Homo sapiens: one gene and its partners. The protein of the gene in region 2 purifies or fractionates together with the protein of the main gene of each other region. This does not show direct contact. Each region holds a gene or a part of one and is shown on either strand. Other genes may lie near its edges.

Region 1 (7,264 bases), on a different chromosome or scaffold from region 2:
GACAGGAAAGCTGCTACCTCTCAAATCACTATCTTCAGTACAGCTATCTTTGCCAAGCATTCAATTCTGCACATTTGACATTTCTACCATTTTTTTTCCCCCAGTTCTCACATGTTCAAAAGCAAGTTTGTCCATTATACTACTCTTAGGTTTTTCTCTTTAATTTTCCTATTAGTTACTCAGGATCAAGGTTTAAATATAAATGATGCCCCTGCTACTTAATCCCTCAACAAGGCCCTAAATTCTGTTTTTTATTTCAATGCTTCTCTCCCCTCCTTTTGGTCTTCACTGCCCTACTTTAGTAACTATTACCTCTACTGTAGATGCCTATCACTGTCTTTCTAAGTAATCTCTTAGACCTTTGTCTTTCCTCACTTTATGATCTGCCCAGAGTAACAAAGTTGTTTATCCTGAGGTAGAGACAGAACCAAATCCTTGGATTTTGACTTCAGGTATGAGGCACTTTTACTATATTACTGCTATTGCTCTGATGTTCAATATTTGAGCTGATACCTACTCCTGAAAAAGGTCACTTTATAACTGAATAGAAAGAACATAACAAATACATAGATATATATTTTATTTTAATTCAACAGACTAGGGGAGGCAGAAAAAAAGAAATGTGATTTGAGAAAAAAAGAGCAGCACTGGTAATCACACATACTTTCCCCCTCCTGAGTACAAAGTACATTCATAACCAATTATAGTCAAAATAACTTCCTAAGAGGAGAGGGGGAGGTCTTGGGGATAATGAGACAAAGATATAGACCAATAACTTCAAAAATAAAAAGGCTTTAGTATCAGATTCCTACGATATGAATGGATTTTTAAAAACAGCTTGGATGATAACTAGCCTATTCTGCCTCAACAATTTAAGTAATGCAAGCAAGTCATTTCTTTCTCCCTTCACAGTAAGATGAGGTCTTACATAATAGCAACTAAAAAGCTTTAACCTTCTAGGATACAAAGATTCTATCTAAACATGCAAGTATAGATACTCCTTGACTGAAGATGTGGTTATGTCCTGATAAACTCATCATAAACGCATAAAGTCTAAACGCATTTAATACCCCCAATAAACCCATCACAAAGTCAAAAAAAAAATGTAAGTTGGGGGTCGGGCGCTGTGGCTCACGCCTGTAATCCCAGCACTTTGGGAGGCCAGGGTGGGCAGATCACAAGGTCAGGAGATCAAGACCACCATGGCTAACACAGTGAAACCCCGTCTCTACTAAGAAAACAAAAAATTAGCCGGGCGTGGGTGGCAAGTGCCTGTAGTCCCAGCTACTCGGGAGGCTGGGGCAGGAGAATGGCATGAACCCAGGAGGCGGAGCTTGCAGTGAGCCGAGACGGCACCACTGCACTCCAGCCTGGGTAAGAGTGTGAGACTCCGTCTCAAAAAAACAAACAAACAAACAAACAAAAAATTGTAAGTTGAGGATCCATTTTAAGTTGGGGACGTTCTGTATATATGAAGAATTTCATACCGTCTGCCTTCAAGTGTTCGTAAGCTAGCTTCTTCTCGCGCAGTCATCCTCTCTCTTCTCGCTGAATTCTGAGAAGCGTGAAGAGGATGATTTGGATGTCCAGGATCACCAGCAGATGCTAATGCAGAACCATAACGTAATTGAGCTTCAGTAGAATCCATAATACTGACCATCCAGTTCCAAGTGGGAATAAGCTTTTCTTCTACATAGTTCTATGAAGACCAAACTAAAATAGTTAAAACTATCCAAATAGAGCTAAATTCGATACAGCAGCAGTATGTCAATATGTAAACGTTTCTAACATTTAATTCCCCTAATACTGGAATTCTCATAATTGACAGCCAAAAAAAAATAGTGGAATGGGAAACTTTTCAGTGGTTTCATACCTGTAAGTTTACTGCATCTTGGTAAGTCAATTTCACAGCTGCTGGAATCTGAGAGTATACTAGGTGATTATACTTAGGAATAAGGCCCATCAAGTCCGAGATTTGTCTAATGACAATGCTGTAAGCCCTGGCTAAACTGCTTGCAGATGTTAGGTAACTGCTGGCGTTGCTAGCTTCCAAAGCAGCTGCTGCAGCTGCAGCACTTGTACTGATGGTACCACTCCGGCGTAAGTTTGAAGGATCAATATAAATCAAACCCGCTGAACTTGCTATAAGGAAAAAGGACAACCACAATGAGCTAATGTCAGTTGCTAATTGTGTTTCTCTGGGATTATATATACTTACGTAAATCTAAATGGTCAATTGTGGTACCCAAGCAAAAAACTTTGCCTAAACCACACTATTTTGGGGAGAGGAGTATGGAGGGGACAAGAATTAATATAAAGTTCTCAACCAGGGGAAATCTGACCCCCACGCCACCTCCCCCCGCCAAAGGGGCTACACATTTGGCAGTATCTACAGACATTCTTGGTTATCACAACTGTGGGAGCCAAGGGGAGGGGAAGAAGGGTGAGAGGGGTTTCACTGGCATCTAGTGGGTGTAGGCTAGGGATGCTGCCTAACATCCCACAATGCACAAGACAGCCTCCCACAATTACCCAGTCCAAAGATGCAATAATGCAAAGACTGGGAAACCCTGCTATAATCATATGTACATATTTTTTATATTTGAAACTCAACAAAACAATGAGGAACTATCATAAAACTAATTTTATCCCCAGATGAACATGCATAATTTAAAAAATCTATCTAAGTATTCTTAGCAATACTAAGTTTTCAGACTTGCCTGCTGGTGTAGATGTACTGGAAGGGGCTGTACTGGCTGCTCGCTGATGCTGGGTGTTGCGGACAGCCCACTGCATTGAACGGGGAGCTTGGGCAGCACCATTGGCATGGGAGCTATTTGTGGTTCTTTCTAATGGCTCATCAAGCATAAAGGTCTCCTGTTCTATGTCGTCACTCTGACTACTACTGCTATCAGAATCACTTGAGTCATTCGATTGAGAATCATCTTCAGAAAAGAAGGCAGGAACACTGCTTGCTCCTAAAATTTTTATTTTTAAAACCAAAAACATTGTGAGTTTAATAATTAAAATTACAATGTACCCCCTCATTCAGGAAAACATACATATTAAACAGAATGCCAGATTGTATTCAATAATCCACAAAACCTACCATAAAATAGTTTTTATTAGAAAATAACTTTCAAGCCCAGCTCTGTGGCTCAGGCAGGACTGCAGTGGCACCATGTCGGCTCACTGCAGCCTCTGCCTCCTGGGTTCAAGCTATTTGTATGCCTCAGCCTCCTGAATAAGTAACTTTTAGCTGGGTGTGGTGGCACATGCCTATAATCCCAACAACTGAGGAGGCTGAGGTGGGAGGACTGCTTGAGCTCAGGAGCTCAAGACCAGCCTGGGCAACACAGTAAGATCCCAACTCTTTAAAAAAAAAAATTAGCCCGATGTGGTGGCTTGCACCTAGTAGACCCAGCTACTCAGGGGGCTGAGGTAGGAGCTCAGGAGGTCAAGGCTGCAAAGAGCTCTGACTGCACCACTGGAATATCCAGCCTGGTGACAGAATGAGACCCAATTTAAAAAAAAAAAAAAAAAAAAAAAAGGCAAGAAAATAAAAATCTTTTAAAGAAACTTTAAAATTCATTCATTATTTAATGACCAGAAAAGCTGGAGAAAGAGTTATTAAAATAATACTTTCTTTTCTAATACCCAGAGAACAAGGATGAAGTTATAAAAATGCTTAGCTACCCTTGCGTATATCACACAAAGTATGACCCAATCCACGCTGAATACACACACACAGCCTTAGCATAAGCAAGAAAGTAGTTGGGATAAGGCAACATACCTGCTTCTGAACCAGCAGTTGCTGCAGTGACAACGCTTCTGCGCCCACTAGCATTATCTTGGTTGCTGTGGTTACTTTCACTATCACTTTCTGTTTCAGCTGCTGCTAACAAGTCCAGCTCCATATCACTCCCTAAAAAATACATTTAAATAAGAAAAAAGCACAAACTCACTATGGTTTAAAACAGGGTCTGATAAGCCAGAATATCGTAAGGGTGGGAACTAAGAAGGCATAGGGGGTAGGAGTTGGGGAGAAGGGGAATGGTGTGAAAGAGAAGGGATAACTACTAAAATAAGACTAAGTAACTACTCAACCTTAGAAGAATGGCTAGGGAAATTATGGTAGTCAACAGACTAGTACATCAGGGCAGTGCAGGGGAGGACTGAAAGTAAATATACAAGCTATTAGCATCTGGGTGTAATTATGGGTGATTTATTTTCCTTTTCTCTAATTTCCAAATGTTTCATAATGCGACTATGATTATTTTAGTTTTTAAAAGTCTTTTAAGAAACTGACTTAAAAAGAAAAAAGGGAAACTATTTTATATATGTATTATATATAGCGCCTAAATTTTCTAAATAGATGCTACAGAAACCCTTGGCAAAAAATAAGTTTGACCATTTCACTATACATTCAAATGAGGTTTCTCTCTGTATTTAATATCTCCCTTTAAAAGTACCTGATTTACTCATACTGAGTAATTTCTCAAATAACCTGCATACCGTCTTCATCATGCTCATCATGTTGTCCCTCTGCCTCAGCATTTTCTTCCCCGTGTTCTTCCTGTTCATCATGATGATCCTCTTCTCCAGCCACACCCTCCACCACCTCAACCTAAATCCAGAATCTTATTTGTAGACAATCAAAGCTAGTTAACTAAAATGCGAAGACCACTAACTATAGAGAATTTGAAATCATATATCAAGCAGTTTTGAAAATCTTCATTTGTTAGTGACAATTTGCTATCAAAAATTATATCCTGGCCGGGCACGGTGGCTCACACCTGTAATTCCAACACTCTGGGAGGCCGAGACGGAGATGGGCGGATCACAAGGTCAAGAGATCAAGACCATCCTGGCCAACATGGTGAGACCCCGACTCTACTAAAAATACAAAAATTAGCTGGGCATGGTGCGTGCCTGTAGTCTCAGCTACTCAGGAGGCGGAGGCAGGAGAATTGCTTGAACCCGGGAGGTGGGGGTTGTAGTGAGGCAAGATTGCACCACTGCATTCCAGCCTGGCAACAGAGCAAGACTCCATCTCAAAAAAATAAAAAAATTATACCCACAGATCCCAAAGTTCATTACTGAGCATATACAGAACCCTCAAGTTAGAAGTATAAAAATTATACTAGGGGCAGGGAGGAGAGAATTTACCTCATAAATATGTAGTATCCTCTTTCAAATACATTGTACAAAACTACTAAATTTTTCTAACATTACGAATATCTTGGCTGGGCGCGGTGGCTCACACCTGTAATCCCAGCACTTAGGGAGGTTGAGGCAGGTGGATCACGAGGTCAGGAGTTCGAGACCAGCCTGACCAACATAGTGAAACCCCGTCTCTACTAAAAAATACAAAAATTAGATGGGTGTGGTGGTGCGCGCCTGTAATCCCAGCTACTCAGGAGGCTGTGGCAGGAGAATCGCTTGAACCCGGGAGGCAGAGGTTGCAGTGAGCCGAGATCACGCCACTGCACTCCAGCTTGGGTGACAGAGCGAGACTCTGTCTCCAAAAAAAAAAAAAAAAACCCAGAATATCTTTGCTGTTAACACTGAGAATATCTCCACCCTTAATCCTTAAAGACAAGTTTGTGTCCAATTTCCTAATATCCAGTAAGTCACAAATTATTAAAATAATTTTACTATGTATAACCACAAATGAGAATATATAATAAACATCTACAAACTGGATGCAAACGCATATAGTAGTCTCAAGCTACTATTAATGTAATTTCTACTGACTACTCTTCTTTTCTCATAAAATAAAAGCTTTTTAAATCTACCACAATTAAAATCACCTCTTCCACATCTGCTGAAACAATATCATCCTGTTCTTCATCTCTGCCCCGAACGGGCTGTGACTGGCTGATGCGCCTCTGCTGTGGATTCCTGATGATGTAGGATGACTGAGACTGACTGGAGCTGTAAAGAATCAGAAGCTTATGAGTGGGCTCCTGCCACAGCTCAGATATGCAACACATATTTTTATTTAACTCATTTATTACATGTGAGACACTTGCTAGGATGTGACTTTAAATCTGAGCTGAGAATTCTTAGAAACCAACAATACTTAATCTATATATCAGAAAATATAAATCTCAGAATATGTTTTTTCTTTTTAAGTCATTTCAAATCTGTGTTGATGCACATTATTTGTATGAGTCCATCCCATCGAAAAATTCTACAGGAAGATTTTTCCTCCTCCACCAGCAGTTCTATTTCTAAAAACTCTGGTAGCACCATCTGTCCATTAACAGCAAGTGTTTAATAGAAGTGATCTAACTTTTAAGAGATCTGACATGATTTCTATTTTGAATGAGCTTATTAACTAATGACTTGCTGATGTGTGTGGGGAAAACATCAGTTCAAAAGCATGATTTTAAAGTAGTCATAACCAAAGGCAAAGTGGCAAAAGTTTCACTTCCCTAAACACCTGATTTGGAGACAACCAAGAAAAGACAGTTGACTGGATTATAAAACAAAAAGGGGGAACCAGAAAATACAGCTTAAAATACAGGCCAGAAATCTGAAACTGGTGGCTAAATAACCCTGTCACCTATTATTTATAGATTATGAAACGGGGTAAAAGATGTTGAAGTCAAAAGACCTTTAAGTGATTGCACTGACAGGTTCTTTCCTATCTCAGTTGCTATGAGAAATGAGAATCAAACCAATTAGACCTGAGAGTTGACTGAAACACCATGCCTTCAAACAAACAGATAAGTAGTCTCAATATGATGTTTAACACTAGAACTATAAGTAACTGGTAAAACAGAGATCGTGGATTACAAAAGTGGGAAAGGCTAAGAGAAAATCTGTAGAGATGAAAAAGGGTATTTCCAACCACTAAAGAGATTTCAATATTAAAACATAAAAGCACTGTGTGAAGCCACAACTAATGAGTATTTCTTTTTTAAAACAAACATCCTAGAACAAACATCCACAAGAACTATAGGCCCCTCAAAGTGGTTACTTTAAGAAGTTATGCAGTTAGTATGTATAATACTGCCAAAACAGACTAGGTATAGTGGCTAATGCCTGTAATCCCAATGTTTTGGGAGGCTGAGGTGGGAGGATTGCTTGAGGACAGGAATTTAAGACCGACCTGGGCAACACAGCGAGACCCAAACGCTACAAAAAATTTAAAAAGAGTAATTTAAAAATACCAATACATAAAACGTATTACAGTTGAACATCCCTTACCTGAAATGCTTGGGACCAGAAGTGTTTTGATCTTGGGTTTTTTTTT
Region 2 (7,683 bases):
ATTAAGGATGGACAAGCAATATGTAGGAGGTTAAAATCTACAACCTAGACCCACTAGATGCAAGAGATAAAGAAGGTTCAGTGAAGAATATCTGACGAGAATGGTCTGTAATACATTTTTCTTACATTCAGTGCAAAATATTAGGCAAGATCTAGTAGGCTAGCCTTGACTCTGAGGTCCCTCCCATCTTTAATTTATTTTGGTTCCTGGTTTTTTTATTTTTTGTAGGGGGAGGGTCATGGACAGGGTCTTGCTCTGTCACCCAGGCTGGAGTACAGTGGCAAAATCATGGCTCACTGCAGCCTCAACCTCCCGGGCTCAAGAGATCCACCAAGCCCAGCTAATATTTTTTACTTTTTGTAGAGACAGGAGTCTCACTATGTTGCCCAGGCCAGTCACAAACTCCTGGCCTCCCAAAGTGTTAGGATTACCAGTGTGAGCCACCGCACCTGGCCTGGTTCCTGATATTATTTTGGTTAACTAAAGTCCATTCAGAGGTACAGAACAGTTCCTGCACCTGAATGAGATGTAGAGAATAATCTGACTTATTTTCAGAAGCAGATGTGTTGAACTGTCCTTGCAGAAGAGATGGTGCTAACCCCAGAGCCTAGAAAAGGGCCGGGCACACGACAAGTGGTCAGGTTGTTTTTAAATACATCAATAATCATTTCCTCTCCCAGATCGCACACCCTCCCTCTTTCTCTCAGCTTATAAACATGTTCACGTCCATATCCACTTAAAAAACACCTTTCAGACCTACAATTATCTGGATCTTCTTTGTGGGTAATCTAGGTCCCTCCCATGCCTTCAAATACCTGTCCTCCCACAAAGCCTAAATCTTGGGCCCAGATCTGCCTAGCAGACACATTTGGATGCCCCACAGGCCCCTCTTAAAACATTAAAGACAAACTGAGATCCTCCTCCCACCCCCAATCTCATTCGAGTTAACTCGGCTGTGTCATGGAAAGACGCTGCTGTGTTTCACTTACAGACGCTGCTGTAAACTGTCACCCATACTTGCTGCCCCCCTCTTCTAACTAGTCACCACGCCCATCCATTCTCTTAGATATCTGAAATCCTACCCTTCTTTTTTTTTTTTTTTGAGACAGAGTTTTGCTCTTGTTGCCCAGGCTGGAGTGCAACGGTGCAATCTCAGCTCACTGCGACCTCCACCTTCTGGGTTCAAGCAACTCTCGTGCCTCAGCCTCCCAAGTAGCTGGGATTACAGGTGCCCGCCACCACGCCCGGCTAATTTTTTTTTTTTTTTTTTTTGTATTTTTAGTACAGATGGGGTTTCACCATGTTGGTGAGCCTGGTCTCGAACTCCTGACCTCAGGTGATCCACACCCCCCCGCCTTGGCCTCCCAAAGTGCTGGGATTACAGGCATAAGCCACGGTGCCCGGCCCCAGCCCTTCTTTTCTATACCTTAGTTTGGGCCATTAGATTACAATTCACCATCCTTCCAATTTTAATTTGTCTTCCATATGGAGGCTAGACTGAGCTCCTACGGAAATTCCATCTCATCATCCTACAGCGGTTTCCCAAAACCTTCAGGATAAACATCCAACTCTATGACAGGACAAACGAGGACCCTCCCTGTTTGGCCCCCACAAGGTTTCCAGCCTCAACTCTCTCTGCTCTTTCTCAAACCTAAATTCCAGTCCTGTAACTCAGCTTGCATACTCTCTCCTATTTCCAAAACTTTTGCACAAACTGTTCCTTCCTGTTACCTAGCTAGCGTCTATAGGAAGCTGCCTCCATTATGTAGAAAATGCTAAGTGCTCAAAGGAATAACAGCATTTTGTCATATATCATAGTTGACCTAACATATTTTCCGAATAATCAGAGAGTCTGGATCCCTAATTATACCACTATACATTTACAAATGGCTTGTATTTGTAAAGCACTTTACAAACTTCTTATATACACCTTAAAAAATGAAGACAGGCCGGGCGCGGTGGCTCATGCCTGTAATCCCAGCACTTTGGAAGGCCGAAGCGGGCGGATCACCTGAGGTCAGGAGTTCGAGACCAGCCTGGCTAACATGGTGAAACCCCATCTCTACTAAAAATACAAAAATTAGCCGGGCATGGTGGCGCGCGCCTGTAATCCCAGCTACTCGGGAGGTTGAGGCAGGAGAATCACTTGAACCCGGGAGGCGGAGGTTGCAGTGAGCCGAGATCTTGCCACTGCATTCCAGCCTGGGCGACAGAGTGAAACAGTGTCTCAAAAAAAAAAAAAAAAAAAAAAAAAAAAAGACAAAGGCTGACATGTATTAATTTCCTACCTGCTTAGTTCTCTATCAGGCAAATCAAAGTCATTCAATAAAATAGGTAACATCTGTCAAATGTTTAATGATGTCCCAAACTGTGCTAAGAGCTCTGCAGGCATCAGCAGCGCAGGGAATCCTTGCGAAGGCGCACATAACCTGGGTCTCGTTATTAAGCCCATGTTACGGATGAGCACACTGAAGCCCTAGAGACCTTAAGCCACTCACCTAGCTCGTGAGTGTCCAGGCCGCACACCCCTTCTATTGCACACATACCCCGACAATGGACACCACTCACCTAAAAACCCACTTCGCCGCACCGACTGAGGGGCCCTGGAGGCGGGAACTACAAACCTGTGTCCCCCAGCCAGGGCTGGAAGAAGCTCTTGATGGAGACCAAGGGCAGGTCTTTATTGATCTTGAGGGTGCTCAGCAGAGGCGCCCAGTCCACCCCGCGGAGGCGGTCGGCGTTGAAATCCAGCACGCCCTCCCGGAGACAGGCGCGCACGGCGGGCAGCGGCACCGAGTTCTGCAGCGCGCACAGGTACTCGTAGTGGGAGAAGAAGTCCGCCGCGCTGTCGCGGCGCAGCTTCACGGAGTCGATCATGGCCCGAGGGCGGCCTCGGGGGATGCCCGCCGCGGAGACGCCGCCCGCGCCCACCCAAGAACGCTGAGTCGCAACCCGGCCGCTCCGGCACCCACGGCCAGGCGATAGCGGCAGCCCCGCACCGGGCTCAGGAGCGGTGATTCGGTCGGAAGACGCAAGGCCAGAGCCCCAAGCTAGGCCGGCCCCTCAACGCCCCACTCCCGCGCTGCCTCCCGCCCTGCGGCCCAAGCAGTTGGCGCCCGCCTCATAGTCCTCTGAGGCGCCGGGATTCAAGCCGGTGGGCGGTGCCGTGGAACGGTGCGCCAAGACGTCAACGTGCTCGCTGTGCGTCGGCACGCAGGTCCCGCCTCCTGAGGACGGGTGAGTTCGCTGCTACCTGAGATAGTGGTCGGGAGAGTTTGAGGGTTTGCGAAAGAGTTTACTGATCGATCCGAATAAAAGTGAAATGTGTGGTCGGGCGCGGTGGCCCACGCCTGTAATCCCAGCACTGTGTGAGGCGGGGGCGAGCGGATCACCTGGGGTCAGGAGTTCGAGACCAGCCTGGCCAACATGGCGAAACCCCGTCTCAATTAAAAATACAAACATTAGCCGGGCATGGTGGCGGGCGCCTGTAATCCCAGCTACTCGCCTGTAATCCCAGCTGAGGAAGGAAAATCGCTAGAACCCGGGAGGCGGAGGCTGCAGTGAGCCGAGATCTTGCCATTGCACTCCAGCCTGGGCGACAAGAGCGAAACTCCGTCTCAAAAAAAGAAAGAAAATAAAAAGTGAAATGTGGATGTAACAACGCACTTTTAAAAAAAGTCTAAACATCTGAGGAATGTGTCTGTGCTTGCAGTGTCCAGCCAGCACAGAGACTGCACTCAAGGGATGTGGGAACGGCTGATTGAACGTGAACTGCGGTCATTAAATCTTTTATGTCTGTGTTAATATCTACAAATAAGCCTTAATTTCTGTAGTTTCTGCATATCTCACACGGTTCCTGGCAAATTGAAGAGTGTTTCATGAATTCAGGACTTTATTGTGTTTGCTGTGAATCAGTTTGTTTTGTACTGACGATGATGTTGGCTAACTCCCTTGTAACTAGTACTTATTTGAAATAATGTCCTCGGGATTATTTTAAGCAATGTTTAAGTATGAAATCATTTCATTCTCCTAACATCTCAAGGAATATACTATTATATTCTACTTTACAAAAGGGGAAACTGAGGAACGGGGAAGTTAAGTGGAAGCTAAGTGGAAGAATCCAGATAATTGACCTCTCCTTCTATTGGTATGCAATTGCTAGAGCAATGATAGTCCTCCGGTAGAGCCTTAGACATTGTGTTTATTGCATTCCTGTTCCACCCACTGCATTCCGGATACTCCAACTTACTTCCAACACACATATGCAGGCGTCTCTAAAATTCCGGAGATATGGTCACCAATTATTTTTATGTGCGACATGCTCAAATCTTAATATAGTAAACGCTTGTATATTCATAAACCAGCTTAATAAATGAAACATTACCATTCCTGTTGAAGAGCTTTGTGTAACCACCTTCCCAATCACGACTACTCTCTGACTCTGAGATAACTGCTCTTCTGAACTTGGTATTCATCGTTGCAATGTATGTCTTTATATTTCTGCTACATATGTAAGTAAGCAGTATATAACATTCTATATTTTCTTTTCCTACTTTACTTATCGTTACCTTTACTAGGTCCATCCGTGTTGACATATAGAGATATTCATTTATTTTCCCTGTTGTTATATGGGAGTTCCATGTAGAAACATACAGTAATGTGTCTGTTTTTCTGTTGATGGTAATTTAAATTGTTTCCAACTTTACGATTTCTTTGTTGCTCTATCCATTTTCTTTCTAGTCTCCAGCATCAATTAATGTAGTGTCCATTACCTTTTTAAAGCTCCCTCCTCCCTGTTTCCCATGAAGCCACCTGATTTCTTTTTCTTTACCTCTCGAATTTCTTCTTCTCAGTCTCATTCTTTGGCTTCTCTTGCATATCCACTCTAAATATTGCTGTTCGTCAGGTTTCTACCCTCAGCTTTCACCCCTTCTGACATTTTACAGTTTCTCTGGGTGTTCTTGTCTTCTGCTCAGCCTTAACTTCCCCACTCTAGGCAGATTACTTCTAACACAGATAGATCTCTTCATCCATTAAATTGCCCCCTAGAAAGCCAAGATTTCTCACTGCCCTCAGTGTCAGATCTATGTCACGTAGCTTGACATACAAGCTCCTTCATAATTTGACTATCTCTGTTGTCTCTCTCCTTGCTACATTCTTCCTGGCATGTCTTCTCTAGATACACAGAACTGCTTGAACTTTCTGATGTCCTATTGTTGCTGTCTGGGTCTTTTCATAGGCTGCTCCTTTATTTAGTCGGCTAACTTCCATTCTTTTCCCAGCCTTGGTTTGGGGCACCTTCCCTAGAAAGCCTGTTTCTCTCTAACCCTCATCTCTCCTCCCTTGCTTGTTTAGCACCTCACTGCTGTGCTCCCTGACATCCCTGTAGCATAACACTTAGAACATCCAATGATAAACATCTTTTTAGATGGTTTTCCTTCCAGAGTCTGAAAGCCCTTTGAAGGCAAGAACCATGTCTCATTCATGCTTACATTCCCTATGCCTAGCACAGTGTTAGCACAGAGAAAGTGCTAACTAATGACTAATTGTAGGAACATTCTTCCCTATTATCCCCGCAAGCTATTGCCAGCACCCTGTAGCCACTGCCTATGAATGCAGCTCAGAGAAGTCTTCCTCATATTAATAATCATTTAACATATTCATTTAAAATTTATGTTTCCTGTGCTTACTTATTTTTAGTGTGGCAAGATTTCTTTCAAGGCTTGCCTGATAATCTCTTCTCTGCTTCAGTTAAATTATGACTTAATAGTTGCTTCAAAAAAAGAATGGCTCCAGTTCTCCTTTCAGCATCTGGTGGGTTCACCCACACACTTCCCTGAACACTGAATGAAAACTGTCTCTCTGTGGCACCTCTGGGATCCTCTGACAAACCAGGCTCACACCTGGCCCAAGACAAAATGCCTTGGCTTCATTGCAGGTGCATGACTTGGGAGGGACGTTCTACTGGGTGGTATAAGAGATGAGCTCTCCTCCTTCAGGGGATCTGGTGAGTGAGTGTTTGAGTAGAATACAGGTAAATGGTATCATTTAAGCACTTGTTCACTGTACTCTACTCCCAGTCAATCCAGACTGTTATACCCCGACTTCCTAGCCCACTTACCTTTCCATAGAACCACAATGCCATATCATCTGCTTATCTCTAACATTCATCCTCTCTGTACTTGCTTCCAGAGCAGTGAGGTTTGATGGATCCAGGCACAGAGCAATGTCAACCTGGCCAACAACATAAGCTGTCTTATGTTAACGGATGTGTGGTCCCCATTTCTTTTTCCCATTACCTTCCTTGTGGCTACTCACAGTGGTTGTTCCAATTCCTTCTCCTTCTTTCTTTTCATGTTGCTGCTTGATATGGTTTGGCTGTGTCCCCACACTTTACCTAGAATTGTAATAATCCCCACATGTCAAGGGCAGAGCCAGGTGGAAATAATTGAATCATGGGGGTGGTTCCCCCCATACTGTTCTTGTGAAAGTGAATAAGTCTCACGAGACCTGATGGTTTTATAAATCGGAGTTCCCCTGCTCAAGCTCTCTTGCCTGCCGCATGTAAGACGTGCCTTTGCTTCTCCTTTGCCGTCTGCCATGATTGTGAGGCCTCCCCAGCCATGTGGAACTGTGAGTCCATTAAACCTCTTTCCTTTATAAATTATCTAGTCTCAAGTATGTCTTTATTAGCAGCATGAGAACAGACTAATACACCATAACACTTCATTCTACATCCCTGAACAGGACACCTCTTACTTCATCAGGGAAAACAGTTCCAAATGTAAACTTTCTTGTCTTCTTTCTTCTGACTTCAGCTGCCTTCCAATCCATGCTCCACACTGCAGCCGCCACCACCTCCTCTGCAAATCCTTCTATGACTTCCCTTTGCTCTCGGGATAAAGACAAACTTCACAATGGTCTCAAATAGTGCTCCACTCAATGTGGAGTCCACAGACTAGCTATTGATTTTAGAACTGTTACTGTTCTTATAAGATGAGGAGCTCAATTCAGAATGTAAATCACACATGCACTAAACATACTGCTTAGATTTTTTTCATGAAAAGAGCAGTGTATTGCGTTACATTCTAGAACAAGCTCCTTATCTCATTGTCCAGTGGCACTTTGAGTAGCACTAGTCTCCAGGGTGCTGCATCCTCAGGGCATGATGGAGTATGATCTCTGCAGCTTTGTCTTGTGTCCTAGTCTCTTTCATTCTCAGCAGTCCAGCCTATAGTAGTCTCCTTTCAGGCCTGCACACTTAGAATAAACCACTGTCCATGCTGTCCGCTCTGCATGAGATGTCCTTCCCTTCATTCTGCACCTAATTAGTGCCTCCGCATCTTCTCATCTCAGCTCATGTGTCACTTTGTTGAGGAAGCATTTCCTCCCTCCCTGACTCATCACATCCCCTATCATAAGCTCTCATAATACCACGTAACTCTTGTTGATAGCCTTCATTCTATTTCGCATTCATTTTGAAATAAATGTTTACCATATGGTCCTTGAGGAAGGGATCGTGTCTGTTTTGCTTATTCTGTTGTTTTTGTTTTGTTTTTATTTTTTCCGAGACGGAGTCTTGCTCTGTCACCCAGGCTGGAGTGCAGTGGGGTGATCTCGGCTCACTGCAACCTCTGCCTCCCGGGTTCAAGCAATTCTCCTGTCTCAGCCTCCCGAGTAGCT
Region 3 (7,264 bases), on a different chromosome or scaffold from region 2:
AACTTCGGTATGCTGTTAATTATTAGATGCTTGACTTTGAAGGTGTGAATTTGGGTTTCGATGGTGGTTTAGTTTTGATTTTATTTCTATAACATAGCAGATTTCATAGTACAGGAAAGGTTACAAGGACCACAGAGTTTATCTGGTTCTATTCTTTCAATTTATAGATGAGGAAACAGACTCAGACAAGGTAACTGGTTTCATCAAGATTCCCCAGCCAGTTCATATCAAGGCCAGAGTGAAAGCCTACATCCTCCTGCATCTAGTTTTAATATACTGATGGAGACTGCTAATTCTAGGAAATTGTACTAGCCTCATTATAAATGCAAGAACCTTTGTAGATCCATATTCCCATATGTCTGTCAGATTTTTATAAATTTTTAGTTATTATTTCCAGAGTAATTACACCTAGGAAGAACTTCTAGAATGAATGGGGGGCGGGAGGGCATTAAGGAGATAAAAATGATCTTGTCATAGGAGCTTGCCCACATTTTCTCTTACAGGTGATATAGTAGGCAGGTTAAATATATGATTATAAAGATTATAAACTTTGGAATTTATCTAGACCATTGCCCTTTTGTTTTATATCTCCATGTATAAGTTGTTTTACACTTTAGTTATTTCTGTTTGTGTGAGAGAGAGAAGTGTGCCCAATCACTGTCTTACTTCCTATTATTTTTCTATTAATGTTAATTGGTAGTTATTAATAGAAGTATTTTTAAATTCAAAAATATTAAAATATGTATAACTTTTGTAACTGTTTTACTATGTAAAACACTCCAGTTATCAGTTTTACCTTTATAAAATAATTCAAATTGAAATACACATTTTAAAAAATGGCAGTATTTTGAAGAAGAAAAAGTAGACATTTTTCTTTCTGACAGGGCCACACAGACTGTCAGAATGTTTGAGGAGGAGCTAAAATTCCAGTCTTTTTGGACTCAATTCTATTACCATAATACTATACAGCATTTCTAAGATGACTTCAGAAAAGTTTTTAAACGCCCAAGACTATTATCACAGTGGAATATCTGCTGTTTGCCATTTTCTTATTGGAAGAAATGAAAACTACCAAACTGGTTAGACTATTGTTTTTATATAATATTTAATACCAAAGTACTTGATGATCAAAGAAGCCTTTGCAGGTCTCTCAATTCGAACCCATAAATTGTAGCTATTTTAACAATTGTATTATGTTTTTATTTTTTGTTTTGTTTTGTTTTGTTTTTTTGAGACGGAGTCTCACTCTGTTGCCCAGGCTGGAGTGCAGTGGCTCCATCTCGGCTCACTGCAACCTCCGCCTCCGGGGTTCAAGCGATTCTCTTGCCTTAGCCACCCAAGTAGCTGGGATTACAGGCACCCGCCACCATGCCTGGCTAATTTTTGTATTTTTAGTAGAGATGGGGTTTCACCATGTTGGCCAGGTTGGTTATGAACTCCTGACCTCAAATGATCCACCTGCCTCAGCCTCCCAAAGTGCTGGGATTACAGGATTGAGCCCCTGTGCCCGGCCTCAGTATGTATTTTTAAATGTGACACACACTGTGCTATACATTGGCATATCGGAATAAGCCATGATCTCAGACTTCAAGAGGCTGAGCTGGAGGGAGAGGTTTTTAGTATCCTTAAGTTTATGATGTAGTCTTGACATACGTATTCTGGAAATGTTCTGGCATTTCTAGTCCCTCAGCACCCCCACCCTGCTCTCTGCCCCATTTTTTATAAGTCAGTTAATTGTGCTTTTGAGCTTGATTGTGATTTTAGAGTCCTGCAATGTTTGAGATTCAAAGTCTTCTTTTGCTAGAGCTTCTCAAATGAATCTCTAACATCTGGAAAGCTTTTAAGATTGCATGTGTTGCTTTTAGGTGTTTGGTTGATGTGTTTGTTGCAAGTGTTTTATACATGGTTTGATTGATGTGTCTGCTACAGGTACTTTATGCTTGGAGGTCCTTGGCCTCCAAGTCTGTGCGGATCCACTGCAAGCCTAACGTCTTGTGACTTAGGTCACCAGGGACGTTTCTTAATTCCCTGGGCCTTGACTTCATGTTTCCTTATGAAGGTACACAATGTAGTTCTCAGGAACAACTCCAAGAGAGGCAAGAGTTAACAAGGAGGATCTATTGGCATGTGTTCTTCCATCCCAAAGATATTTATTGAGGGCTTACTATATGCCTGGGTTTATGTTAATGAGGACTTGGAAACATAAGAGGGGACCCAGCCCTGGAATTGCTCACAGCCAGATGAGTACATCTGATGTTAAAACAATTGCAATAAAGAGAAATAAGTAAAAGGGTGAATCACCTAGGTATGAGAAAGGAGATTACAAGAAATATCTGGAAAGGACAATAATAATGCTCTCATTGACTGACTACTAAGCACTTTACACATATTACCTTATTTAATCCCCCTAAAAGCCCTAATGAGGTAACTTTGTTACCTTCTTTTTGCAGACAAGGGCACTGAGGTTAACAGAGATGAAATAAGTTGCCCTGGGTCACACATTTAGTAAATGGTGGAGCTGGATCATTTAATGTGTGTCTAACTGAAAATCTACCATTATGAAACCTGACCTCACTAAAAGCAGAGGAGTGTAAAAGTGTGTGGTGTTTTTTGGGTCCTGGGCTATCTAGCTTTGTTCTCTTGGAGAGAAGAGTGACAGTAGTTGATGAGAATGGAAGGACTCCGATCATTTAGCCTCTACATTTTAGAGCCTTGTGTTCTTACTGGTAAGTTCTTGCATTAGCTATGGAAATAGGTTACAGCCACAGGCCTTGGGCAAAAGCAAGAGTGGTCTCAGGTTGAGACTTTTAAATCAGACTCTAGAAGCACTATGGAGAAGAGATTTGAGGAATTCTAGACTTAGAAGCAAGGGGGCATGTTACGATGCTGCCTCAGTTGTCCCAGTGAAAGACATCAGGAGAGTGAGATGAGGCAGTGTTGATGGAAAGGGCCTGGGATAGTAATGATGCATCTTCTTGGTGACTTGGGAAGGTGAGGGAGGTGTTGAGATTTTCCAGGCACACAGTGCTGAGGATTCATTCGCAGGTGGATAGCCTGAGTGACACATGGAGGGGAAGCCTTCTTTTTATCAAAAATGGAGGATTATGGAAGTGGGAAACTGGTTTGTTAGAAAAATCATGAGTTAAGTTTGAGTTGCTTATGGGAGAGGGAGCTGATCGATAGTTGGATATGTGTGTCTTCCACTCAGGAGATAGCACCTTGGAAGGTCTGAGCTCAGGGAACAAATGCGCAAACATCAGGCCATGGGCAGTTGCTGAAGCCCTGGCTGTGTTCAGGATCAGTTGCAGGGGGTTATGGGAGTAAGAAGCCAAGAGAATCGAGATTTGAACCCTGGGGAACTCTTGAATCCACCTAAGGTTAGGTAGTAGTTGATGCTGCAAAGGAGACCAAGAGAAGGCAGTTGGAGATATAGAAGATGGTCGTTTCTTGTCAGTCTCGTTAGTTTTAGTTACTAAAACATTTGTGATCATGTATTAAATTATGCGAAACACAAAAATTGCTTGAAGTAAATTTCTGAGGCTTGGTTTTACTTTGCTGTGTTTTTAGAAATCTCTAAAGCCCCAAGGTTAATTTTGTCCTAATGAAGAGCTTTATGCTTTTTATAGCATGTATACAGGTAATGTGAATTTTTCTGCTGAAATATCACCACTCCACTCTAAAGAAAATGATTCTATAGGAGAGAGATATTTTGATTCAGGCCCCTTTATTGTCTGGTGTTTGAAAGACCACAGTGGACAGGAGAGGGTGCAGAGAGCGAGGCTGGGGAAGAGAAGCATTGGACAAGCCTGTACCTCTTTTATATATGCCCAAGACTTGCCTGATTCATTTTTATGGACTGCCCTGCTTTTGGCATAGAACAAGGGTAAAATAACCTTTCTAGCTACTCTTATTGAATATAAGGTCACCTAGCATGGAGTATCATCTATGAGTGTGATAAAAAAGCTCAGTTATAAGTCTAAGAAATGATATCCCTGAGCCTATGAAGTCACAGTCAGACAGGCCCCAAGTATTGTCTTCTGTTTTGTTTTAGTTAGAAGTGGGCAGAGAGGAAGCTCACACTCCACATAGTCATTGTGCATATTATGTATCCAATAAAGAAAATGTGAACGTCTTGGTCTGCTAGTAAGAAGGAGTTGGAATTTCATTTTGTAATCCAGGTGTTCCCAAATCATGTTTTGAATTACTGTGTTACATATACAGAGCCCTTCTGCTCTTTCAGTAGTATGTAAAGCCCCAAAGGTAGGATTTAAAAGGGGATAGTAGAAAAAATACTGATGGCAGTGGACTTCATCTAGTTAATTGTAAGTTCCTGGAGGGCAGGGACTCTGTCACTTTGGCAGCCAGCCTCCTGTTAATACCAGTTGACTGAATGAGGTGGATTGTGATGACAAGGTGGTGTAAGATTTCATACAGAAATCACCTGCCAGGCTGCTTTAAGACTAGGGGTTGTCCAAGGCAGGAATTCCTAACTGGGAGAGGATCCTGGCTGCCAGTCCTCTCCTACCCCTTACCTCTCAGCAGCCATAATGCTTAAAGGAAATCCCAAGAAGATTCTCAGTAGAGGGCTGGGGTCCCTTGGTTCACACCATTGATAGAATTTAGACAGGAATGTTCAGGGATGGCATGCATACCTGAAACAGAGGTTGCTTCTTTGGATTCCTATTTGGAAATCTGAGTATCCCAGCAGCTTGTAGAAATGGACATCTTCAGAGAGCTGAGCCACTGACCCCTCCGGAGGAAGGCCAAACAGTGTGGTCGTTGCTTGGTTTGTTGGGCTGAATGCCTTAAATGGTTATTACAGTTAGTAAAGCCTGGAAACTTTTAAAAATAGGTCAGGGGTCCATAAGATACTATGGTACACATCTACATGGGAATCTTTCAAGTCTAAAAACACAGGGTTTTTGTTTTTGTCACTGGATCATGTGTGCACTTAGGTTTCATCAGATTTTCAAGGAAAGGGGAAATACTGGTGATGAAGTGTTTTCAGGATAGAGCTCTAGGTATTAGGGAAAGAGTAGTGAACAAGACAGACATGGTCCCTGTCTTCATGTTAATAAACTACTAGATGAAATATGAAAGGTGCTGTGATCTGGGGGTGGAGGAGCCAACATAGAGTCTTATGTGTGCATGTTTTTTTCTGTATCCTGTTTCATTTTTGTATCAAATGTGGATTGAGTGGAACACCTATGATGTGCCAGGCCCTATACTAAGTGTTAGATATAGAATGATAAAGTTAAGGTCTCTGTCTCCGTGGGGAACCCTGAATATGTACAGCAAACCATCTTGTCTGTTAGGCATGGCATTTATGAGGTCCATTTTTCAGGATCACATGTTTTGTGGCTTTTACTCAAACCAAATGGGATTTTGTAAATGTGAGGTTGGGGGCGGTGGTGTTGTTGGGGGTTACTTATACACCATTTGAACAGACACCACTTCTTTTCTATTTATATTTCCTGTCTGAATTCCAGATTGGCGGCAGTAAGCACACAATGAATGATCACCTGCATGTCGGCAGCCACGCTCACGGACAGATCCAGGTTCAACAGTTGTTTGAGGATAACAGTAACAAGCGGACAGTGCTCACGACACAACCAAATGGGCTTACAACAGTGGGCAAAACGGGCTTGCCAGTGGTGCCAGAGCGGCAGCTGGACAGCATTCATAGACGGCAGGGGAGCTCCACCTCTCTAAAGTCCATGGAAGGCATGGGGAAGGTGAAAGCCACCCCCATGACACCTGAACAAGCAATGAAGCAATACATGCAAAAACTCACAGCCTTCGAACACCATGAGATTTTCAGCTACCCTGAAATATATTTCTTGGGTCTAAATGCTAAGAAGCGCCAGGGCATGACAGGTGGGCCCAACAATGGTGGCTATGATGATGACCAGGGATCATATGTGCAGGTGCCCCACGATCACGTGGCTTACAGGTATGAGGTCCTCAAGGTCATTGGGAAGGGGAGCTTTGGGCAGGTGGTCAAGGCCTACGATCACAAAGTCCACCAGCACGTGGCCCTAAAGATGGTGCGGAATGAGAAGCGCTTCCACCGGCAAGCAGCGGAGGAGATCCGAATCCTGGAACACCTGCGGAAGCAGGACAAGGATAACACAATGAATGTCATCCATATGCTGGAGAATTTCACCTTCCGCAACCACATCTGCATGACGTTTGAGCTGCTGAGCATGAACCTCTATGAGCTCATCAAGAAGAATAAATTCCAGGGCTTCAGTCTGCCTTTGGTTCGCAAGTTTGCCCACTCGATTCTGCAGTGCTTGGATGCTTTGCACAAAAACAGAATAATTCACTGTGACCTTAAGCCCGAGAACATTTTGTTAAAGCAGCAGGGTAGAAGCGGTATTAAAGTAATTGATTTTGGCTCCAGTTGTTACGAGCATCAGCGTGTCTACACGTACATCCAGTCGCGTTTTTACCGGGCTCCAGAAGTGATCCTTGGGGCCAGGTATGGCATGCCCATTGATATGTGGAGCCTGGGCTGCATTTTAGCAGAGCTCCTGACGGGTTACCCCCTCTTGCCTGGGGAAGATGAAGGGGACCAGCTGGCCTGTATGATTGAACTGTTGGGCATGCCCTCACAGAAACTGCTGGATGCATCCAAACGAGCCAAAAATTTTGTGAGCTCCAAGGGTTATCCCCGTTACTGCACTGTCACGACTCTCTCAGATGGCTCTGTGGTCCTAAACGGAGGCCGTTCCCGGAGGGGGAAACTGAGGGGCCCACCGGAGAGCAGAGAGTGGGGGAACGCGCTGAAGGGGTGTGATGATCCCCTTTTCCTTGACTTCTTAAAACAGTGTTTAGAGTGGGATCCTGCAGTGCGCATGACCCCAGGCCAGGCTTTGCGGCACCCCTGGCTGAGGAGGCGGTTGCCAAAGCCTCCCACCGGGGAGAAAACGTCAGTGAAAAGGATAACTGAGAGCACCGGTGCTATCACATCTATATCCAAGTTACCTCCACCTTCTAGCTCAGCTTCCAAACTGAGGACTAATTTGGCGCAGATGACAGATGCCAATGGGAATATTCAGCAGAGGACAGTGTTGCCAAAACTTGTTAGCTGAGCTCACGTCCCCTGATGCTGGTAACCTGAAAGATACGACATTGCTGAGCCTTACTGGGTTGAAAAGGAGTAGCTCAGACCTGTTTTTATTTGCTCAATAACTCTACTCATTTGTATCTTTTCAGCACTTAATTTTAATGTAAGAAAGTTGTTCATTTTGTTTTTATA
Region 4 (7,264 bases), on a different chromosome or scaffold from region 2:
TTAAATGTAATATGAAAGATCATCCTTTCTTCTTACAAATAGTTTTCAGGTGTCTGTTTCTTTTTAGAGACAAGGTCTCACTCTGTCACCTAGGCTGGAGTGCAGTGGTGTGATCATGGCTCACACCACTTGTCCTCCTGGGGTCAAGTGCCCACTTCAGCCTCTTGGGTAGCTAGGACAACAGGTGCATGCCAGCACAGCTGGCTAATTTTTTAAAAAATGTTTTCATGTAGAGGCAGGGGTCTCACTATGGTTGTCCATTCTGATCCTCAACTGTGGGGCTCAAGTGATCCTCCTGCCTCGGCCTCCCAAAGTGCTGGGATTACAGGCATGAGCCACCGTGCCTGGCCCAGTTTTCAGGTATTTTAAAACTAACATGTATTGAGATGCTTTTTCACATTACGTGTAGGTTTTGGGGCATATGTTTTTGTATCTTTGGCAGTCACCTGAGGATTTTCCAAACCAGGCGTTACCATTCCCTGTCACACTCTCACACCATCCTGAATGAATGGATACATGGATGCATGAATGTTCCCACACTTAGCCCTGTAGTAAAATTACTTCTCTAAATAATTCATTAGTAAGTCATGGATCAGAAACTGTCGTTGGCAGGGAGAGAGGTGGGGGGCAGAGGCATGGGTGAAGAGAATTTTAAATACAGTCAGCCTCATATCTGGAGGTTTCATATGCATTGCTTTCACACCTGCAGATTCAGTCGTATGTAAATGGAAAAATGGTTATAAAAAATAATAATACAAATTTTATTTATTATTTATTTATTTTTTTTTTTTTTTATTTTTTTGAGATGGAGTCTCTCTCTGTCGCCCAGGCTGGAGTGCAGTGGCACGATCTCGGCTCACTGCAAGCTCCGCCTCCCGGGTTCACGGGAGGCTCCTGCCTCAGCCTCCTGAGTAGCTGGGATTACAGGCGCCCACCACCAAGCCCGGCTAATTTTTTGTATTTTTAGTAGAGACGGGGTTTCACTGTGTTAGCTAGGATGGTCTTGATCTCCTGACCTCGTGATCCACCTGCCTTGGGCTCCCAAAGTGCTGGGATTACAGGTGTGAGCCACCGCGCCTGGCCAATAATGATACAAATTTTAAAATAATGGTATACAACTGTCTACATAGCATTACATTTATTAGGTATTACAAGTAATCTAGAGATGATTCAAAGCATATGGGAGGATGTGTGTAGGCTATGTGCAAATACTACAGCATTTTATACGAGGGACTTGAGCATCCTCGGACTTTGGTGTCTGCAGGTGTCCTGGGTACTGAGGGACAACTGTATTGCATGAATTTTTTGAATACTTTTGCAAAACAATAGTATTTCTTTGATATTTTTCCTACATGAACAGTTTGGAAAAAAATTCTTTTTTTTTTTTTTCAGGTTCTTAAGTCAGTCTGATACAATTCAGTTTTTGACTACTGAAAAATTAAGGTTTCTCATTGTGAAACTTCTCTAGTGCTGACTTTTTGTTAATCTAGAAATGATTGGCTTCTTTATTATATGAGTGTACTATTGGATAATTTAAATATATACTAAAGCTTTCTTATGGCTGCACTATAATTTCCCATAGAGCTTATTATTAGTCTTGAGCTCCAGCCAAGAGAACTTAATGACCGTTGTAGTGCTGTGCAATAGGTCCCTCACTTTTATGAAAAGACAAAACTTGTTTTAGTTTTTTGTTATAAATGACTTGATTTGTTTCCTAGGGCTAATGTAATATAAGTACCAATATTGGGTGGCTTAAAACAACACATGTGTTGTGTCACAGTTCTAGAGGCTTAAAAATGTGAAATCAAGGTTCGCGGAGGGCTGTGGCTCCTGTTCTAGCTTCTGGTGGCTGCTAGACCCAGATGCTGTTTGGCTTGTAGATGGATTACTCCAGTCTTTGCCTCCATCTTCACATGGACTTCTCCCTGTGTTTCTCTGTGTCTCTTCCCCCCAGCAAGGATACCACTCATTAGGTTAGGACCCAGGCCCACCCTACTCTTTGAATGGACTCATCTTAACTAAATACATCTGCAGTGGACACTGTTTCCAAATAAGGTCACACTCTGAAGTACTGGGAGTTAGGGGTTTCAACATATTTCATTTGTGGGATACAGTTTGACCCATAACTTTTGTGCTTGTCCAGAGAATGAATTCTAAGGCATTGCCATGGTATGTGTGTGTGTGTGTATTTTTTTTTGAGACGGATTCTCGCTCTGTCACCAGGCTGGAGTGCAGTGGCGGCGATTACAGCTCACTGCAACCTCCAACTTCCTGGTTCAAGCGATTCTCCTGCCCCAGCCTCCTGAGTAGCTGGGATTACAGGCACGTGCCACCACACCCAGCTAATTTTTGTATTTTTAGTAGAGACGGGGTTCCACTATGTTGGCCAGGATGGTTTCGGATCTCCTGACCTCATGATCCGCCTGCCTCGGCCTCCCAAAGTGCTGGGATTACAGGTGTGAGCCACTGTGCCTGGCCTTATATTTTTTAAATCTTATTTGTTAGTTTTTAAACAATACTTAACCTTAGTTATTTAGCTTCATTTTGAATCTTCAACTTAGCCAAATCCAGGTGATACAAAACCCAAGTAACTGAAGTTTATGTACGTAACATAAGTTCGTCTTAACTCATGATAAGGGTTTTTAAAGCAGATTCCCGGGTATACATACGTATACAGATGGTCCCCAATGTTACAACAGTTTGATTTATGCTTTTTTGACTTTATGATGGTACAAAAGTGATATAGATTAAGTAGATAGCATACGTTGAGTTTTGATCTTTTCCCAGGACAGTAATCGGTGGTACGATTCTCTCTCGGGGCCAGGCAGTGACGTTGAGCCACGGCTTCCAGTCAGCCACATGGTCACGAGGCACTCTGATGCCAGGGGACTGAATAGCCAGCATTTTTTGGATATTGTGTTTTTGCACCTCATGTTTATGAAGTGCCCGTTTTCCACTTTGTGATATTTTCACTTGACGGTTGATGAGGTGAAGCGCTGTTGTGGGTTGAGCATCTGTGCACATGCATACACCTGCTGTGCACACGCATACACCTGCTGTGCACACACATACACCTGCTGTGCACACGCGTACACCTGCTGTGCACACGGGTACACCTGCTGTGTACATGGAGGAGCCACTGAAACTGCTCTCAGCGTTTTCAGTGCTTTGGTTTTAATCTGCAAAATGTGTTGATGACAAATCTTTCTCCTCTTCCTGTAGATTTTTTTAATAGTGAAGTTTATTTGGAATTAAGTTTAGTGAATTCATTAATAACCTAGTTGGTAATGGTCTTTTGGCAAAAATGAGCCATAGTTATAAAGTAGTAACATGTTACTGTGTGGTTTAGAACTAGATTTTGAGAGCAGTTCCAAAGCAGATTGTTTCAGAATTTATTTTTACTCCCTGGATTAAGAGAACTATATTTTTAAAATAATTCTGTTATGTTTACAAGTATGTGTTGTGTAATATAGTAATGCCCTTCTCCGTAAAACTTGTCTTCCTAAAACTGGTCTTTCTGTCTATAGCGGGAATATTGGTCAAACCTGTCAAATAATCATGGATACCTACTAGTTGCTCAGCTTTGATACTAGATAGTTCATTATGTGGATTTAAGTTACATTGGCAGTGTGAATTCTTGGGGAAATCAGAATAATTATTGTTTCTCATAATATTGCTTTACATTTACATTTTTCAGTTTCTGTCATGCCAGTTATTCTTTGGCACTTTCTCATGAGTGTTTAGAAGGAGAGAATCTGTCGTGGCCACAGGCTGTGTCATTGTACATATGTTTAAATATCACATCAGGGTATTTATTTCCAAATGCATATTCTTTTAAAAAGACATAAATCCATTATTAAAACAGTGTAAAAATCAGAAATTACAACTGCTGTGAATTACATAATATTTTTCTATATTTGATAATACCAGGAAAATGTCAAGAAAGTTGTTAGGAAATTTTTGAAAGTTTCCATCCCTTTGAAAATATGTTGTCTAAAATTATAACTTGCTATTTATTTTTTCAGACATCTCTTTATAATCATTAATTTATATTAATAACATGGAATGTGTAGCTCTCTAGAAGGCAATAAAATTTGCACAGCATATATCTTGCCTACTGTCAACTAGTCAAGACCTCTACCTGGTGTAAAGATGTAAACGTATATCATAAGACATGCATAATGCATTCTGTCTGTACCCATATGAAAAGTGAAACCATCCTTCAGGAGCGTCTTGTTCGGTAATGTCTAACCCAGACTTTGGTCACCATGCTTCAGTAGTTACTACTCTTTAATTCTTTCTCAGCCATCCATCCCTTCCTAGATATAATTTGATCTGAAAAATATGAATCTAGTTCAATTCTTGAGGAAACTCATGCCTAGGAAATTAATTTACTTAAGATTACACGGGCCATGTATGGTGGCTCACGGCTCACGCCTGTAATCCCAGCACTTTGGGAGGCCGAGGCGGGTGGATCACTTGAGGTCAGAAGTTCGAGACCAGCGTGGCCAACATGTTGAAACCCTGTTTCTACTAAAAATACAAAAATTAGCCAAGCGTGGTGGCACGCGCCTGAAATCCCAGCTACTCAGGAGGCTGAGGCAGGAGAATCGCTTGAATCTGGGAGGCGGAGGTTGCAGTTAGCCCAGATTGCCCCACTGCACTCCAGCCTGAGTGACAGAGCGAGACTCTGTCTCAAAAAAAAAAAAAAAAAAAAAAAAGATTATACGACTGGGTGTAGTTTGTGCTTGTAATCCCATAAACCCAGCTACTTGGGAGACTGAGGCAAGGAGGACTGCTTGAGCCCAGGAGTTTTAAGACCAGCCTGGATGACATAGTGAGAGCCTGTTTCTTAAAAAAGAAAAAAAAAAAAAAGAAAAAAAAATGGAGTTAATAATTTTGGACTACATTCCAGATTCCTTGTTTCAGTTGAGTGCTTTTTCTATTATTCCACGGGTATTTTACACAATACTGCTCTCTTTAGTATGCAAGGCTGAATTTTGGGAAATTGCCATTTTTAACCCATAAAGCCCACAAATTCATTATAATTTAGCTTAATAGCATAAATATTGAGTTAACCTCTGGAAGCAGGCTTTGACTTTGATATTGACCTGACCACTTAACTCTCTGGAGACTTTGACAAGTGACATCAATGTCTGTCTCTGTGTTTCCTGATTTATATCCACAGATAGAAAGCCATCTCCAGATCCTAGGGCCATTTTCAAGATTCAGTGAGATAAGGTGAAGCATTTGAATGTTCTCCATAAATGTCAGCTGCTTTTATTATTACTAGCATTATTTTTTGTTTTCATTATTATTATTAACATAGACCCGTCTAAGGGCAGAAAGAAATCTGACCAAGAATGGAGTGAAAGTCGGCTGTGAAGGTTAGGACTCCCTGAAAACAAAAAAGAAAAGTGGTAACATCACTCTGTATCCAAGGGCATGGATAAGGATGATTCAGAATTTTTTTATAACATTGATGTTAATATACATAGAGAAATACACACACACACACACGTATATATGTCCATGGACATCAAAATGAGGTATAGGTTAGGAAGTTACCCTGGAAGTTAGAATTGAGATAATTACTTTGATTAGCAAAGGTTTATGTTAGAAATATGAGTGGTTGAAGGCAGCGCCTTTCACCTTGATGCCTGTTGTGTTTAGCACTGGATAGAAAATTGCTATTTTTACTGATGACTACTTTAATGCTTGGTTCATTCATATGAAATAATCTTTCTTTTCTCCTTTAATAATAATGATCTCTCCTGATTTCAAGTTGAAAATGTATTAATTTAAGATAACTTATGAAGCAATGACATATGGAAGAGGAGATGGGAAATTGTTTCTCAATGGGAAAGTGTTTATAAATGGGATAGGTATACTAAAGGTATTTCCATTTAGGGAAAGAGGAAAGGAATGGTATTAATATATTTCTCTAATATTTTTCCCCCTTTGAAAGTTTGCCATGTTAGGAATCCTGGGGATGGAGTGATGAATTGTGGCATTGCTCTGCAGTTCACGCTGCTGAGAGCTGCCCCAACACACACACACACACACACACACACACACACACACAAAGGTTGCACACACACAGGTTTGATTATGCTCATGAGACTTCTTTTATTATTGAAAATATCTTAAAGTTTTATCTCACCAAGGAGGCCTTTTCTCTTTCCCTCTCTTTCTAGAAGGCCAATGATGAGGCCAATCAGAGTGATACAAGTGTCTCCTTGTCAGAACCCAAGAGCAAAAGCAGCCTTCACTTACTGTCCCATGAAACAAAAATTGGATCTTTTCTAAGCAACAGAACTTTAGATGGCAAAGACAAAGCTGGCCTTTGTCCAGATGAAGATGATATGGAAGGAGATTCTTTCTTTGATGATCCCATTCCTAAGCCAGAGAAAACTTACGGTTTGTGAGTAAATGGTTTTTGAGCTATGAGACTAGGGGTTTAAAAATAAGATAAATGTTTTCATTTTATAGTTAAAAAATAATGAACTATGGAAGGTTTATAATTATTGGATCCATAAATCTGACTATGCGTTGTTAATGCCTTTCATGTTGTAAAACAATCCCAGATTTTAGAAAAACCTAGACATGATTTATTCCAACAAGTAAGTGTAGATTGAGTGTCAGCCACTTGCCAGGGCTGTTCCAGGGTGGGGTGCAGCAATGATAGAAGAGGGAAGACTCCTGCCCTCAGGAAGCTCATGCTCTGGTGACAGAGTCAGGCAATGAGGGTTATGCTGCAGTGTGTGGGGTGATGAGAGCAGAGCAGTGATGGGAGCCCGAGTGTGTGGTCAGGGCAGGTGCATGTCAGCTGTCCAAATTGGAGGGGGCCTCACTTGGAGGTGCCCAGTGAGCAAAGAGCTAGAGGAGGTAAGGGAGTTGCCGTGGGTTGATGGAGCTTTGGGGAGAGGAAACAGACAGCAGGGAGGCGAGTTGGGGGTAGCAGAGAGAGCAAGATGGGGATCGGATGAGGTGGACTCAGAGATGAGGAGCTGGACGGCTTTTCTTTGAGACTGGAAGCCCTGAGGATCTTGATCTGGCGTACATTACAGAAGGATCCTGAGGTTGCTGGGGAAGGTTGGTCTTAGAGTTTCCAGTTAGGAGGCCGTTAATGATGGAAAAGGATTTGCCAGTAAGTGCTAGAGAAAAGTAATATACAGAGTGGCATCATGGTTTTTAGCCTGCAAAACTAGAAGGTTGGAAACACGTTAGATGAAGAGTGGCAAGAGCAAGAGTGGATTACACA

Evidence for each region.
Region 1: the proteins of CEP78 (region 2) and UBR5 purify together in Homo sapiens (affinity purification with western blotting; 3 studies listed by BioGRID, with this or other methods). This does not show direct contact.
Region 3: the proteins of CEP78 (region 2) and DYRK2 purify together in Homo sapiens (affinity purification with western blotting; 2 studies listed by BioGRID). This does not show direct contact.
Region 4: the proteins of CEP78 (region 2) and CEP43 purify together in Homo sapiens (affinity purification with mass spectrometry; 3 studies listed by BioGRID and IntAct, with this or other methods). This does not show direct contact.

Annotation. Positions count from the first base shown.
Region 1 is NC_000008.11:102,283,640-102,290,903, forward strand, and holds part of UBR5 (E3 ubiquitin-protein ligase UBR5), read right to left. Parts: intron 5,938-7,264; coding exon 5,814-5,937; intron 4,628-5,813; coding exon 4,516-4,627; intron 3,926-4,515; coding exon 3,794-3,925; intron 2,979-3,793; coding exon 2,721-2,978; intron 2,143-2,720; coding exon 1,874-2,142; intron 1,700-1,873; coding exon 1,488-1,699; intron 1-1,487. UniProt on the Homo sapiens protein: E3 ubiquitin-protein ligase involved in different protein quality control pathways in the cytoplasm and nucleus. Mainly acts as a ubiquitin chain elongator that extends pre-ubiquitinated substrates.
Region 2 is NC_000009.12:78,231,545-78,239,227, reverse strand, and holds the start of CEP78 (centrosomal protein of 78 kDa), read right to left. Parts: upstream 3,154-7,683; 5' UTR 2,878-3,153; coding exon 2,625-2,877; intron 1-2,624. UniProt on the Homo sapiens protein: Centriole wall protein that localizes to mature centrioles and regulates centriole and cilia biogenesis. Involved in centrosome duplication: required for efficient PLK4 centrosomal localization and PLK4-induced overduplication of centrioles.
Region 3 is NC_000012.12:67,651,617-67,658,880, forward strand, and holds part of DYRK2 (dual specificity tyrosine-phosphorylation-regulated kinase 2), read left to right. Parts: intron 1-5,489; coding exon 5,490-7,097; 3' UTR 7,098-7,264. UniProt on the Homo sapiens protein: Serine/threonine-protein kinase involved in the regulation of the mitotic cell cycle, cell proliferation, apoptosis, organization of the cytoskeleton and neurite outgrowth. Functions in part via its role in ubiquitin-dependent proteasomal protein degradation.
Region 4 is NC_000006.12:167,016,212-167,023,475, forward strand, and holds part of CEP43 (centrosomal protein 43), read left to right. Parts: intron 1-6,197; coding exon 6,198-6,424; intron 6,425-7,264. UniProt on the Homo sapiens protein: Required for anchoring microtubules to the centrosomes. Required for ciliation.